Homo sapiens: one gene and its partner. The protein of the gene in region 2 binds, or shares a complex with, the protein of the main gene of each other region. Links are inferred from orthologs where the notes say so. Each region holds a gene or a part of one and is shown on either strand. Other genes may lie near its edges.

What was found. Proteins that work in one complex are often made in the same cells at the same time.
Region 1: the proteins of IGSF5 (region 2) and LNX1 are in contact, whole or in part, in a crystal structure (PDB 3VQG), measured with the Mus musculus proteins. The link is inferred for Homo sapiens from one-to-one orthologs. Residues at the interface, in NP_001171358.1 of Mus musculus: Val367, Thr368, Leu369, Val370; in NP_001153049.1 of Mus musculus: Gln396, Leu397, Gly398, Ile399, Lys400, Leu401, Val402, Phe413, Leu416, Pro446, Ala449, Ala450, Ile453.

Annotation. Positions count from the first base shown.
Region 1 is NC_000004.12:53,581,487-53,588,526, forward strand, and holds part of LNX1 (E3 ubiquitin-protein ligase LNX), read right to left. Parts: intron 1-7,040.
Region 2 is NC_000021.9:39,769,153-39,776,192, forward strand, and holds part of IGSF5 (immunoglobulin superfamily member 5), read left to right. Parts: intron 1-1,763; coding exon 1,764-2,063; intron 2,064-7,040. UniProt on the Homo sapiens protein: Provides, together with MAGI1, an adhesion machinery at tight junctions, which may regulate the permeability of kidney glomerulus and small intestinal epithelial cells. Mediates calcium-independent homophilic cell adhesion.

The sequences.
Region 1 (7,040 bases), on a different chromosome or scaffold from region 2:
GGGTGATTTATAAAGAAAAAGAGGTTTAATGGACTCACAGTTCCATATGACTGAGGAAGCCTCACAATCATGGCGGAAGGTGAAGGAGGAGCAAAAACATGTCTAACATGGTGGCAGGCGAGAGAACATGTGCAGGGGAACCGCCCTTTATAAAACCAACATATCTCATGAGACTTACTCACTATCGCAAGAATAGCATGGGAAAAACCCGCCCCCATGATTCAATTACCTCCCCTTGCGTCCCTCCCACAACATGTGGGGATTATGGAAGCTACAATACAAGATGAGATTTGGGTGGGGACGCAGCCAAACCATATCACGCATCTTGTTTTTGATTGAGGAAATTGCCATGTTTGATCATTTCTCTTAACTAAGTGATGATCTTAAACAATTTCTAAATAACTTTAGCTTACTGATCTTGTCTTTATTTGAATACATTTTGATCTTTTGTTCATCATGGATTGTTTGCATTCATTTTGCATTTTTTTAAATATTGCATTCACATTAGGATTACTGAATTTTTCTGCACCTTAAATTTTGCACCTGAAGGTGAGTGTCTCACTTGCCTCACCTTAATTATGACCTTGTCACTGTTAATTTTAGAAACCTAAGAATATCAAAACTGTGGTTTGGATGCAGCTCTGCTACCAACTACTTTTTTGGATCTTGATATTTTCCTTTTACCTGACCTGGTGGCCAGCCAGCTACAATGACAAAACAGTAGAATTACAAACTCTTCCCAGGTGTGCCACTAAACTTCACCCAAGGTCAGAATTGATTGTTGCTTCAGCTGATTGTTACACTTGACAGAGACACACAGGTGAACAGTTTGCTGAAGGGTTCACAAGGCAAGAGGAATGACTCGCTTCAAAGAAGCAAAGAATGTAACCTAGGGCCAGGTCTCACAAAAGATCACAAAACGACCGGATCCTGTAAGAGCTTTGTTTCATGAGTACATAAGCGAGCCCAGTCAAGTAATAAAGAGTTCTCTCCAGCAAGGACACCACATGGAATGTGACATTTTACAAACAGTGTGAGGCTCTGCCCTACTGTATTCATGTTTGCTTTGAATTTTTGCACATTTAAAAGTTATTCAAAATATTTTACTCCCTTCAGCCAACCTCTTGTTTTACAGCATGTTTCAAACACACAAGGGCTAACTCTATATCAGATTATTTCTGAGGTTACTTTTAGCTTCAAGAAAATGAGCTTAAGATTTTTTGTTTTTTTGTTTTTTTTTTAATTGTTGATGATGCTTTAAAATTTGGATTAAGCTCCATGTGGCAGAATGGTTGCTTAGTTTCAAACTGGTCACTGGGGTGACAGCTCAGTGCAAAAATCACCATCACAGTCAGAAACACCATCCTGGACCACGAACAGCAGAAATATACCCACAGAGGAACCAAACAGACCAGCGCCTGCCACTTCTTCAAATGGTGGCCTCATCTCTCTTTCTAAAATAATTCACCCAGCAGGCATGTCTGCCTAACTACTGCCCTGGCCCTAGCTGTAACTCCTAAATCAGGTTACTGGGGGGAAAATAATTGCCAAAGTTAGGGCAAAGTCTATCTTTCTGTATTAAACAAAGTAAATGTACAATTACATTTTAAATTTTAGATAAATTTAGTAAGACTTGACAGGATCGATAATGTGCCATCAAACTCTTATGGCAATTTTATAAAGGCCAATTGTAAATGAACATACACAGAGGATGGGCAGTGTTCTGTGGGCTATTCCTTAGCTTACAGACTCTCATGTAATAGGGAAGAATTAGGAGCATTAATGACCTGGATAAAAATAGTCACACATGGAATAAAATTATCTTCAAACTAAGAACCTGGGTTGGAAGTTTGGGGTGATGTGTCTGTGTGTGCATGATGGGGGGCAAATACACTGCAGAGGAAAGAGTGGGGAGGCAGGTGCTTACAGGCTGCCGCCAAGGTCGTGGTTAGCTCTGCTTCTGCTTAATTTCTAAATCAATGATCTCGAAGAGGGACTAAGCCACTCATTAATGAATCTGTGAATGACATTAGCCTGTATAGTATTGCAAACACCCAAAAATACAGAAAAAAAAAACCCTTTTAAATGGTCTTTAAAGAGGTCAGAAACATGTCAAGAAATTACAGGAGAATTGAACTAAAGGGAGACCATGTAATACATCTGGAGTCAATAAAGGAGGACATAGATGTTCAGAATGTGGGAAAAACAAGGGAAGTGGTTAAGCGAAAAGAGTCCCAAGTGGCTAGACAATTAGACGCAAGTTTTAGAAGTCAGGGAATGCCTTTCATAAGCAGGTTAGAGAAGAGTGTTCCTTCTCTTGACGAGATTTTACCACCTTTCCCCTGGGGTGCCATACTTGGGTTTGTTTGTAAAAACTCTGTAACAGAAAAGATGTCCTTCCATTTCCTAGTCCATAAACATGATGAAATAGAACTGACCCCCTGCAAACAACAACAACAACAACAACAACAACAACAACAACAACAACGACAAATGAAGGCAGAGTATTTTTGCATTGATTCGGAGCTCTGTTCATGCTAGGAGTCACCAAGGATCCCGGGAAGAGCTGATATCAGAGGGGTATGGAAAAGAAGCAAACTGACATTCTTTCATCCAAAGCTGAAAAACAATTTCAAAAAGTGTTTATGTGTGTATGGTTTTTTTTCTGTTGTTGTTGTTTTTTTTAAAACAGATAACCAAGTTTTACAGAGGGAAGGACAAGATGAGGAAAGATATTTGAATTCTCAACATTTTCCGGCTGTGTTTCAATTCTACAGGGGTCATGGCTTTGCCTAATCCATGCCTGGGATTGGCCTTAAACTCTGTGGGAGTTCCTGTAGGGAATTCCATTTCATCTCCAATACATTTAAGTCTAATTATGAAAACAGAGTTTATCCACAGGAAAAAAAATGTAAAAACACTGCAAGAGAATACATAATACATGGCAATGTGTATAATGCCCCAAGACAGGAGCCATGGACAAGCTTTGGAGGAGAGACAATAGAGAGTGCATGTGGCCCAGAACAATCAAGGAAAGTTAATGGGATAGACGGTCCTTGGGAAGGATCACGAATGATAAATGCGATCTGGACAAGTGGGAAGTAATCCAGGTGAGAAGAACCTGAGCAAATGTGTCAATCAAGGAAGAGTAGTGATCTCTTGATGTGACCCATATGACGACCTCTATGTGAGGTTTTAAAATGATTTATTTAGAAGTCATAGGATTTTGATCGGTTAAGGAACTTAGATTTTCACCAAGTAGAAAAATCCTCTTTTCAAGATCCCTACAGCACCTACCAGCTTCTATCTGAAACACTTCCACTGATGGAGAACTGGTCAGTTTTTCAAATAGCTAGTGCTTCCCACGTTACTTTGACCTTTGGCCTTGTTCTGCCTTTCAGTGTAACGTATATCACATTTGCTTACTCAAAACATGACACACACATCCCCAAATTAAAGACAGCATTGGGTGGTTCCTCCCTTGTTTTTATCTTTGTCTTTGGTTCTTCCAATTGTCTTCCTGGGTAGTCCAGATGGTGGTAAAAGATCTACCCAGGATGCCTTCTAGTTTGTTAAGGTCCCTTTGAAAACCCGTACCTGGAAGTGAAGTTATCCTGTTTTGGTTTGGAGGACTCAGGATTCAGTGGAGTGATCACTTCCTTAACCAGGATACTATGTGTTTACTAATGCAATCTATGATGGTTTTTACTGTTTTGTCTTATTAGATATCTCACACTGTTGACTGGAAGAACTCAGTAGGCCTTTAGAGTACAAAACACTTACTACTGTGGCATGAACATAGAAATAAATGAAGGTAGTGATGATGGCTGCCAATTCTGACTCTCCTTGCCTGTACTTTGCTCAGTATTTCAGCCTCCAAGTGGACAAGAAATCTCTCCATAAGTAGTTGGAAGAGCTTGTGTATATGGTTGTCAGCTGGGGATACAGTGGGTAGAATGAGGGTCCCTGCAAAAGATATATCCATGTCTTAACCCCAGAACCTGTGACTATGACCTTACAGGAAAACGATCTAAGAAGGTGTCATGAGGTTTAGGATCTTGAGATGAGATCATTCTGGATTATCTGAGTGGGTCCTAAATTCAATGACAGATGTCCTTAGACACTTATAAGACAGGAGGAGAAGACACAAACGCAGAGGAGAAGGTGATGTGAGGAGAGAGGCAGAGATTGGAATTATGCACCCACAAGCTAAGGAATGTCTAGAGCTACTAGAAACTGAAAGAGACCAGAGAAGACCCTCTCCTGGAGCCTTCAGAGGAGTGTGGCCCTGCTGTTACCTTTATTTCAAACTTCCAGCCTCCAGAACTGTGAGACAATAAATGGGAGTTGTTTTAAGCCACCAAGTTTATGGGTATTTGTTATGGCAGCCCTAGAAATACAGGGGTTACATATTTCCAGGGGTATTCCTGCAGGAATGGGGTGAATGCTCCCAACGATCCTTTCCAACACTTCTCTATAGGGCTTAGAAATAGGGAAAAATATTTGGAGACAGCAGCCACATAGATTGCTACATATTTAGCAACTCTACCCTATTAGAAAATGTATTAATTTCCCTTTAATTCATTAATAAGTTAGAATACAGATGCTTTCAGAGATGACTGTTAGACTAAATTTGCAAAGGGCCTCAAGGGAAAAAAAAAAGGCCACAGATAGAATGGCTGAGTGTGTGTATGTTGTGGAAGATGTAATATAAGTCAGACAATCATATTTAATGAGGAGTCTGAAAACACATGGTGACTCATGTATTCATGCGAGTATGCAGGAGCCTAAACATGCTGCGCTCTATTCAGAAAAGGCCACGTGACTGTCAAAAGCAGTCATAAGCAAGTTATGCAAATCATCTCAGCAGATAGCAATGACATATTTAGACCTCCCCATCATGCATGTGCTATTGTGCCAAGAAGCTATTAAAGAAAATTCTTGGAGAGTTTCGACTCTGCTGCTGGTGAAGTCTTTTGTGTGCCTGTGACAAATGCGTCAAACACAAGAAGCAAATAAGAGTCACTTGAAAAAAATCATGGAGTCTAAGTCCACATATTCTAAGTCACAAATTAGTGATGTTACCAAAAATGTCCCCGGTTAATTGGGATAGAACTTGCTCCCACTGTTAGAAGTGTACTAGTCAGCCTACCATGCCAAGGAACTTGGCTTTCTAGAGCAGAGAGAAGTTCTTTCAGATGGATAGGTGAAGAAGGGCAAAGGCAAAGAGAACAAGAGTAAACAGATGATTGTAAAAACTGCAAATCTCAAATTGGTGGATCATCTTGTCTACCTTCTACCTGAGGCAGAAATTCTTTTTAGAATATAAAATAAAAAATAATGATTATTACTATTTAATGAGCAGTTTGCAATATGCAAGATACTGTGCTGGGTATTCAACATGTTTTTTCATTTAATCTAAAATAATCCTATGAGATCATTAAGGTAATCTTCACTTTACAGATGAGTGTATGTGCAGCTGAAAAACACAAATCCTCTTTGTCATTCATTTATTAATTCATTCACTCATCCAGCAAACATACACCATGCACTAAATATGCCAAAAAAAATGATCACCTTCAGTGACAAGAAACTCAGTATCCCAAAAGGCAACCTACTACATTTTCGGACAACTCTAATTCATAGAAAGTTCTTCCTCTTACTGATCTGAAGTGTGTATCTGTGTAACTAACCAAATAGGTCACTGTGGTGTCCTCATGTCACACAGAACAAAATGGAGGAAAGGGTAAACACAGAAAGTTTACGGGAGACAACAAACGTTTTCTGTTCCTGATTTCAGCTCAGTGTAGTTTTCCACATTTTATGGTTTTTTTATGGTTTTCATGTCAACCCTATTCTTTGGGGATAGTTAATGATTAAATCATATTAACCCAGGAACAGTGACACAGTCTTCCTTCCAAACAGTTTTGAAAAGCCTTTGATACTTTGGAGGCATTGTCAGAGGACAATAAATTTGCCAACCACATAAAAGAGAGTCTATGTAATGTCAGTACATAAATATTAGGAATAGTTGTATGCTACTGGGAAGTCCATGAATACTGAGGCAATGAGGAGGACACACTTTAGAGCATCTCTTATGTGTCCTCGCCTTGCCAGCATCTTACAGACGGCATTTCGAGTAGTCAAGATCGTATCCTGGTCAAGAGAGTGAAAGGAAAAAAAAAGTAGTCAAGATCCCACCAGACCCTATTTTCTCCACTTTAAGTGAGGAATTCAAATATAGAAAGGAAGTCTTAGCCAAGGTCTTGGAGACAAGGAGACAGTGACAGGTGAAGCCAGGAAATCACCGCTCCAGGAAGACCCGCTGTTTACTCACATCACAGAAGCCCACTCCCCACAGGTTTATGAAAGACCAGGCATTTCCACTGGCAGCCACTCTACCCTGGAACTCCAAGAGAAACAACACAATCTTTGTTAACAGGTTTTCCTCCTCTGCCTTTGGGAGCCTTTTGGGAAATCTTTTTTTGCTCAGTCTTTGGCCCTCAACGTACTACCGTTTCCATCATTATTACATCCAGATAGTAGCATGACCTAAGATGTCTAACTGTAAGCAATATAAAAATGTTTAAAATAATATAACAATAGTTAACACTCACTGAACATTTAAAATATGCCAGGCACTTTCCATGTAATTATTTCAATTATTCCTCCCAACAGCTCTGAGTCTGGGAAGTATTTCATTTCCCAGCTGATGAAACCAAAGCAAAGAAATATTAAGGAACTTATTTAGGCTAGCAACTACATGGTAGAACTGGGTCTGATACACAGACCTGTCTGATACTATCAACTATGCCTTCCTTTCAATATTTACAAGTAACACTGTGGCAGGTACCATTCCAAGCACTTTACACATTTCAACCCATTTCATCTTCATGATAACCCTATTACACAGCTGATGAGAGCAGCTTAAAGAATCTGTCCCAGGTCACACAGGTAGCACATGGTAGATCTGGGTTTCAAAAACCCAGGTAGGCAGCCTGATGCCAGAGACCAGACCACTATTCTAAAGCAGTAGCATT
Region 2 (7,040 bases):
AGTTTCAGATTCCACTGTGTAACAAACATTTAAGAAACCTCAGCCGGGAATGGTGGCTCATGCCTGTAATCCCAGCATTTTGGGAGGCCCAGGCGGGCAGCTCACTTGAGCCCAGGAGTTTGAGACCAGCCTGGGCAGCATGGTGAAATTCCATCTCTTAAAAAAAGTGCTGGGCGCGGTGGCTTATGCCTGTAATCCCAGCTACTCGGGAGGCTGAGGCAGGAGAATAGCTTGAACTTGGGAGGCGGAGGTTGCCGTGAGCCAACATGGCACCATTGCACTCCAGCCTGGGCAACAAGAGTGAAAGTCTGTCTCAAAAAAAAAAAAAAAAAAAAAAAAGAGAAAAGTAAGTTTTGGTACAGTATTCAAGAATATCCACAATTATCTGAAAAAGCTATTAAATACTCCTCACTGTTCCAACTACATATCTGTATGAAGTCAGGTTTTCTTTACATCCTTCAAACAAAGCAGTATATTGCAACAGACTGAATGAAGAGACAGCTATGAGAATCCAGCCAGACATTACAGAGATTTATATAAGTATAAAACAATGTCACTCATCTTATTAATTTTTTTAGTTTAAAAATGTGATTCGTTTCCATGAAAATATGTTAATCAAAATTAACATGTAATAAATTATTATTTTAAAATATATGTTTAAAATAATTGTTTAACTTTAATTTCAAATATGATAAATATTGGTAGATAAAACCCACACAAATGAAAGGTCTTTGGAGTCCTCAATGCTTTTGAAGAGTGTAAAAGGTACTGAGACCAAAGTGTTTGAGAAGTGCTGATCTGGTCAAACTATCTCATTCAGTAAGTACAACAAAGAGAGCCAAAAAAATTCAGTGACTTGCCCAAAGTGATGACAATTTTCTGGCAGAACCAAGATTGGGAACAAATTTTTTCATTTCTTAGTTCAGTATTCTTTCCATTATGTTGTGTAGTCCAGAGTTTCAGCATGTTTTTCTTGGACATATATGTATACACATTTCACTAAGGCTGTGTCTTTACTGGGGCCAATCCTCAGGTTGTTTTAGTCACACTTGTGAAAACAAGTACTATTTTCATATGGGTTGTTTGCAGTATGAATGCTGACCTATGCGAGAGTGTTCTTAATAAAAAAATAACTTATCTAAGTTATTCTGGCACATGATTTGGGTTAGTTATTTCTGTAAATATTAGATTGGAATTCGATTTAATTTGTAATGAGAAACCTATGTTAAGGCAATACCCTAGGAAGTTATGTTTAAGACCATATGACCCTAGAAATAAATAAAAATGTATCTGATTGACCAAAACTCCAGGGGAGACTTGCGTCTGACCCTGGGCTGTGTCCTCGTCACAGTGAGAAGAAGGTGAAGCTCGTTTCTCTTTTTCCCTTTGCTCCCTCGACAGCCCAAGATAATTCTGTAGCTCACTTCAGGGATTGTATAACCCCCCTATGGCATGCACTTTTCTTTCCCACATAATTATTTCCCCCTGGTTTCTGACTTTTATGAAGCATTTTCTATGTAACTTTGCTTTCTTGTGAGCAACCTCACCTTCTTCAGAGACTCTGGCAGGTGTACAAAAAAGACCCAGATAAAATCTGAGTTAAGATTTCCTAGTAGAGACACAGCCTCTTTGGGCTTGGGAAAATAGGTCTCACAAAATGTAATTTGAAGCAAAACTTAAAAAAAAAAAGAAAAAAAAAAAGAAAACTTAGAAGCGAGAGGCATGGTCATGTCTTCAATGTGTTTCTCTCTTTTCTTCTTTAGTTATGGGAGAGCTGTTCATTCCCAGTGTTAATCTTGTAGTCGCTGAGAATGAACCTTGTGAAGTTACTTGTCTACCCTCACACTGGACCCGGCTCCCGGATATTTCCTGGGAGCTCGGTCTCCTGGTCAGCCATTCAAGCTATTATTTTGTTCCGGAGCCCAGCGACCTTCAAAGTGCAGTGAGCATCCTGGCTCTGACCCCACAGAGCAATGGGACTTTGACTTGCGTGGCTACCTGGAAGAGCCTGAAGGCCCGCAAGTCTGCAACTGTAAATCTCACTGTGATTCGGTGTCCCCAAGGTAAGTGAAGACATTCTGCTTTATATGAAATGAATGATTATTTCATGCTTCAATATTACGTAGAATGCTCCTTCATCCACGATGCCTGGAAAAATCATATGGCGACCTTGATTTTGGGTGGGGATGATAAGGCCAATCACATCTGCTGTCAGCTTAATAATCTTATACCCTCGTCTGCTTTTTAAATTCCATCTTAAAGTTTTTTTTCTCCTATTACATTTGAAAACCATTTAGAATCTTGCCAATTATTTATCATCAAAGAGCATCAAGTTTGGAGACAAATGCTTGAATTAAACATTTGTGTTTCTAGCTTTTACCTACCACTGTTTCAGTTTGATCCCACCCCCTGAGCCAGTATGAAGCAGGTCTTCATACTGGAGGAGGGTGTTCAGGTCTCCCTGGATTTCTTCCAATCTTAGTGGAATTATAATGCTTCATTTTCTTCCCCACCAAATCTACAATGTGTTTGAAAGTGTCAAGTCTATATGTATATAGTTTAACTTGACTAAATGACAGAACTTTAAAGTTTAGATCCCCCTAAAGAATCTCCTGTGGGGTTTTTGGTGTACCAGACACTCTAACCACATTCCTTGAAGGGGCCCATAGCGCCTGTGAGCTTTGAGTCAGCCTGGACAGGGTGGGCCCGGGATGCTGGAGATTGACTTTAACTTAACATTTTACAAAAAAGGAAGTGAGGCCCGGAGAAAGTCTGTGCTTTCATCCGGGTCACACAGCCAAAGTGGCAGAGCTGGGCCTAGAAGCTGAGAAGAGCTTTTCTTTTCGTGTCTAAAGCTTTTCCCACCATGAAAACACCTTTACCTGAGATCTTCCAAAGTTCAGAACAAAGCCATAGCCAAAGCCAAATAATGATGGTAACGATAATAAACAGCACCCTATAGCTCTTACCAAGTTATCAGGCACTATTCTGAGCACTTCTCAGGTATTCACAGAATTAACCGGCCCTACAGCCGTATGAGTGTTGCTGTTATTCCTATTGTAAAGGCAAGGTGACCGGGACAGTGCTGTTGGGATTGTGCACACGTCTGTAGAGTGAGTAAATGACAGGGCAACCTGTACTCACCTGTAGAGTGAGTAAATGACAGGCAGTCTGTCTCCAGAAACTGCTCACCTGGCAACTCTGCCCACCGTGTGAGCAGCCACTTGGAGGGTATAAGAGGTCCCATGGCTGCCGTAACGGAGGACCACAGGCTTGGTGGCTTAAACAACAGAAATGGATTTTCTCACAGTCCTGGAGGTTGGAAGTGTCATCAGGGCTGGTTCCTCCTGAGGGCTGGGAGGGAGCCTCTGTTCCTTACCTCTCCCCTTGTTCCTTGTGGTTGCTGGCCATCTTCCTTAGCTTGTAGAAACATCACCCTCCTCTCTGCCTTCATCTTTACTTGGTGTTGTCCCATTTTTTATGGTCTTTTCTGAGATAAACACTTTTGAACGGTACAGGTTATTTTTGCAAGATGCCTCTCAATTTGGGTCAGTTTGGATCAATTTGGATCAATTTGGATTTGTCTAAAATTTTTCATCATACTTTGACTTAGGTTACATATTTTTGGCAAGATATAGGTAATGTAATGTGGTCACAGGATGACAATTTTCATTGGCGTAAGTTTGACCGTTTGGTGAAGGTGGCATACCCTGAATTTATCCAACATAAAAGTACCTTTTTTGACTTTATAATTAATATGTAGCCAATAGATATTGTGGGAATATCCTGTTTACCCACAACCTTTCACCTAATACAATTTTTTAAAAAAACTTTTATTTTAGGTTCAGGGTTACACATACTGGTTTGTTGTATAGGCAAACTCATGTCACAGGGGATTGTTGTACAAATTATTTTATGACCTATGTACTAAGCCTAGTACCCATTAGTTATTTTTCCTGCTTCTCTCCCTCCTCCCACCCTCCACCCTCAGATAGACCCCAGTGTGTGTTGTTCCCCTCTATGTATCCTTGTGTTCTCATCATTCAGCTCCCACTTATAAGTGAGAACATGCGGTATTTGGTTTTCTGTTCCTACATTAGTTTGCTAAGGATAATGACCTCCAGCTCCATCCACGTCCTTGCAAAGGAGATGATTTTGTTCTTTTTTTACCTACTAACTTTTACATTCATTGATAAATCATTGCCTGAATCAATTACTTCTATGGTGATTGTAAAGAGTGATTTCCTGCTTCCATTATTCTTTCCATATCTCTTAATTGGCTTTCTTTTGTTAAACAAAAGACTTCCCTCCCCTTTCTTCCTTTTCTTTTTTTTTCCTCACAGTTTTAGTAGGGACTCAATTTTGTCCAATACATTCTAATCTATTCCTGTCATTTTTCGTTTTGACACCCAGATTGCTCCAGACTTGGTCAGTTGGTGTCCCTCCAAGCTGGTGCTGGTGTCCTTCCGACATCCCCCTATTAGTTTTTGAGCACCTGGACCAGTAAGGTGTTCCAGTCTCACTTTGCACTTCCCTGTCTCCACCTGGAATCAGTCATTTCTCCAGAGAACCAACCTTAAATATCATAAGTTAGTCTACTTAAATATGATAAAGTATGGTCCAAACTTTGAAAGAGAAGATTTTAAAAAAATCCATTAGCACCAAATGGAATAAAATGGACTGGTTAAAGCATATATCTTAACGAGGTAACGATGCAGCAGGAGCTCTGGCCTGATTGATGGTACCTTAGAGAGATAGATTTTAGAGACTGGCTTGCTTGCAAATGTTTTCTTTTGTAGTGGAAGGGAAAGAGAGCACTTAATTTCCCTTGGTCAGGTTAAATTCACTGAATTCTTCTTAGTCCAGAACTAGTGCCTTAACGATGGTAGCTGGAGGCATGGCTGCTGGAGAGGGAGGCTCAGTGGGTGCTTGCAATGAGTCTAGCTTTATTGGATTCATTTGGAACAGGGTAATTTGTTTCTAAATTATTCATCAAGATCCAGTGCAGCTGGTGGCTGGCTGCATGTTGTGTGTTTTAGGTAAGTTTTATTAGCTGAAGACCTCATTGCAGCCTTGGTTGGCGGAGCTGGTGACCAGACGAGGCTGTAAGGAGAACAGCCAGGTTTCCAGAGAGCCAAGTGTTAATGGGGCTGTGCCCATTCAGGCTTCTTCAGGAATCATATAAACATCCATTTTTCCACCCATTTCCTAAAAGTGCAAAGCATTTGTTTTCATTTCTGAAATGATCCCTGCAAGTCGTTGAAACAGGAATGACGTCAGCTTTGGAAGCTTATCCAGTCAGGGCAAGTCACAGGGTTGTATGAAGTACTTCCTGGTTTATAGTTCAAAAGGTTTCTTTAGAGAAAAACATACTGGGAGGGCTGACATTCATTTCAGATCTGTTTTTTAGAAATTGATTTTCTTAACTACAGAAATGATACAAACCTCGAGCATTGCAGACGTATCCAAAACTGGAGAGTGAGGCCGTCTCACCCTGTCTTGGGAGAAGCACTGTCAGAGCCATCTGCCCCTCGGGGTGGTTTTCTTTGTGCACTTATTTGTGTGTAGGTTGTGAAATGGTTAAAATGAAGTAATGTTTTTAGGACACATGAGCACCTTGTGGAATGTAGTGATTCCTGGTTATAACCTTACTGTTTTGAGAAATGGCAATTTTGGGTGCAGAGAAGAGTAGTAGAAGTGACAGTCCTAGGCCTTTGCCCTGGCACTGATGGTGCAACTTTGGGCAAGTCAGCAAACTTCAGGGCTCAGTTTTCTCACCTGTAAAGTGGGTAGGAGAAGAATAGAGAAGTCCTCTCTCCCGGCTGTGGATCAGAGACAGCAGAGGAGCCTTCTTTATAAATATGCTGAGGCTCAGCCTCCTCCTGGGGGTTTTGTTTCATTGGTTTTTGTGGAGCCTGGGAATTGCAATTGTAAAAAAAGTTCCCAAGTTACTCTAATGGGCAGCCAGGATTGGGGGCTACTGAACTGAAAAAAAAAATCTCTAAGGCCTAGCCTTCCCCTCCAGCCCGATCAAGTGCTATGTCTACACAGACTTGGACATTAGACAGCCTGGGTTCCAATCCCAGCTCACACAATCACTAGCCGTGTGTCTTCTGGGCAAATTACTTACCCTCTCTGAGCCTCAGTTTTAGAACGGTCCTTGCTCCAGAGCACATAGGACTGGAAAGGGAGTGATTGTCATTCACACTATTGATTCGGAGATCTCTTGTGTCGCCTCTAGTGGGCACAGGGATATGCTTTGCACATGATAGTGGTGACATTTGGTATTAATATGTACTTGGCACGTGTTGGTGGTGACATTTTATATTAATCCATTTGGTTTTAAGAAATTCTATACCTTTTTAAAACTCTATGCATTCCTTTGAGAGCATCTGGGAAATGCTATTTTCCTTTTCTTCACAGATGGGAAAAGGACAATCTCCAAGTGGAGGTTAAAGCACATGGTAAAGTCAGTAATGAGGCCCTAACAAGCACACAGTGGTGTGAAGGAGTGCAGGGAGAAAGGCAAGCAGTGTTGACCTTGGAGCTAATCTTCCTTAGTCACTATGTGTGGGTTACTCAGGTATAGTATACTCATCCTCTCCAGCAAACCTGCCATTCACCTGAGCCAGACACACCCACACCCTCCATAGGGTACAAGGCACAGACCAGCACCCCACTGTAGACTTTATGCAAATACATTTATGTCATACCTGGGCCATATTTTCCTCAGAAGGATTATTCTACATTGGAGACAACACATGGCAGGATGGAAAGATATGAGCCAGTGGCCCTGTGGCTTCCTGTTCTGGGCTCCCTGTGCCATTTACTTAGTCACTCTGTCCTGAGCGTCTTGTCTGCATGATGAAAAGATTGGATTATGGATGACATCATTCCAAGAGTCTGTGTTTTCTGTCCACTGTCAGATTTTTGGTTTGTCAATAATATATGGCTATGATCTATTTTTCAGTATACAGTAAATGCACTCTTTTTAAAAAAATTAGCTCCATACTAAACAAAAATATACATGCATGTGTGTA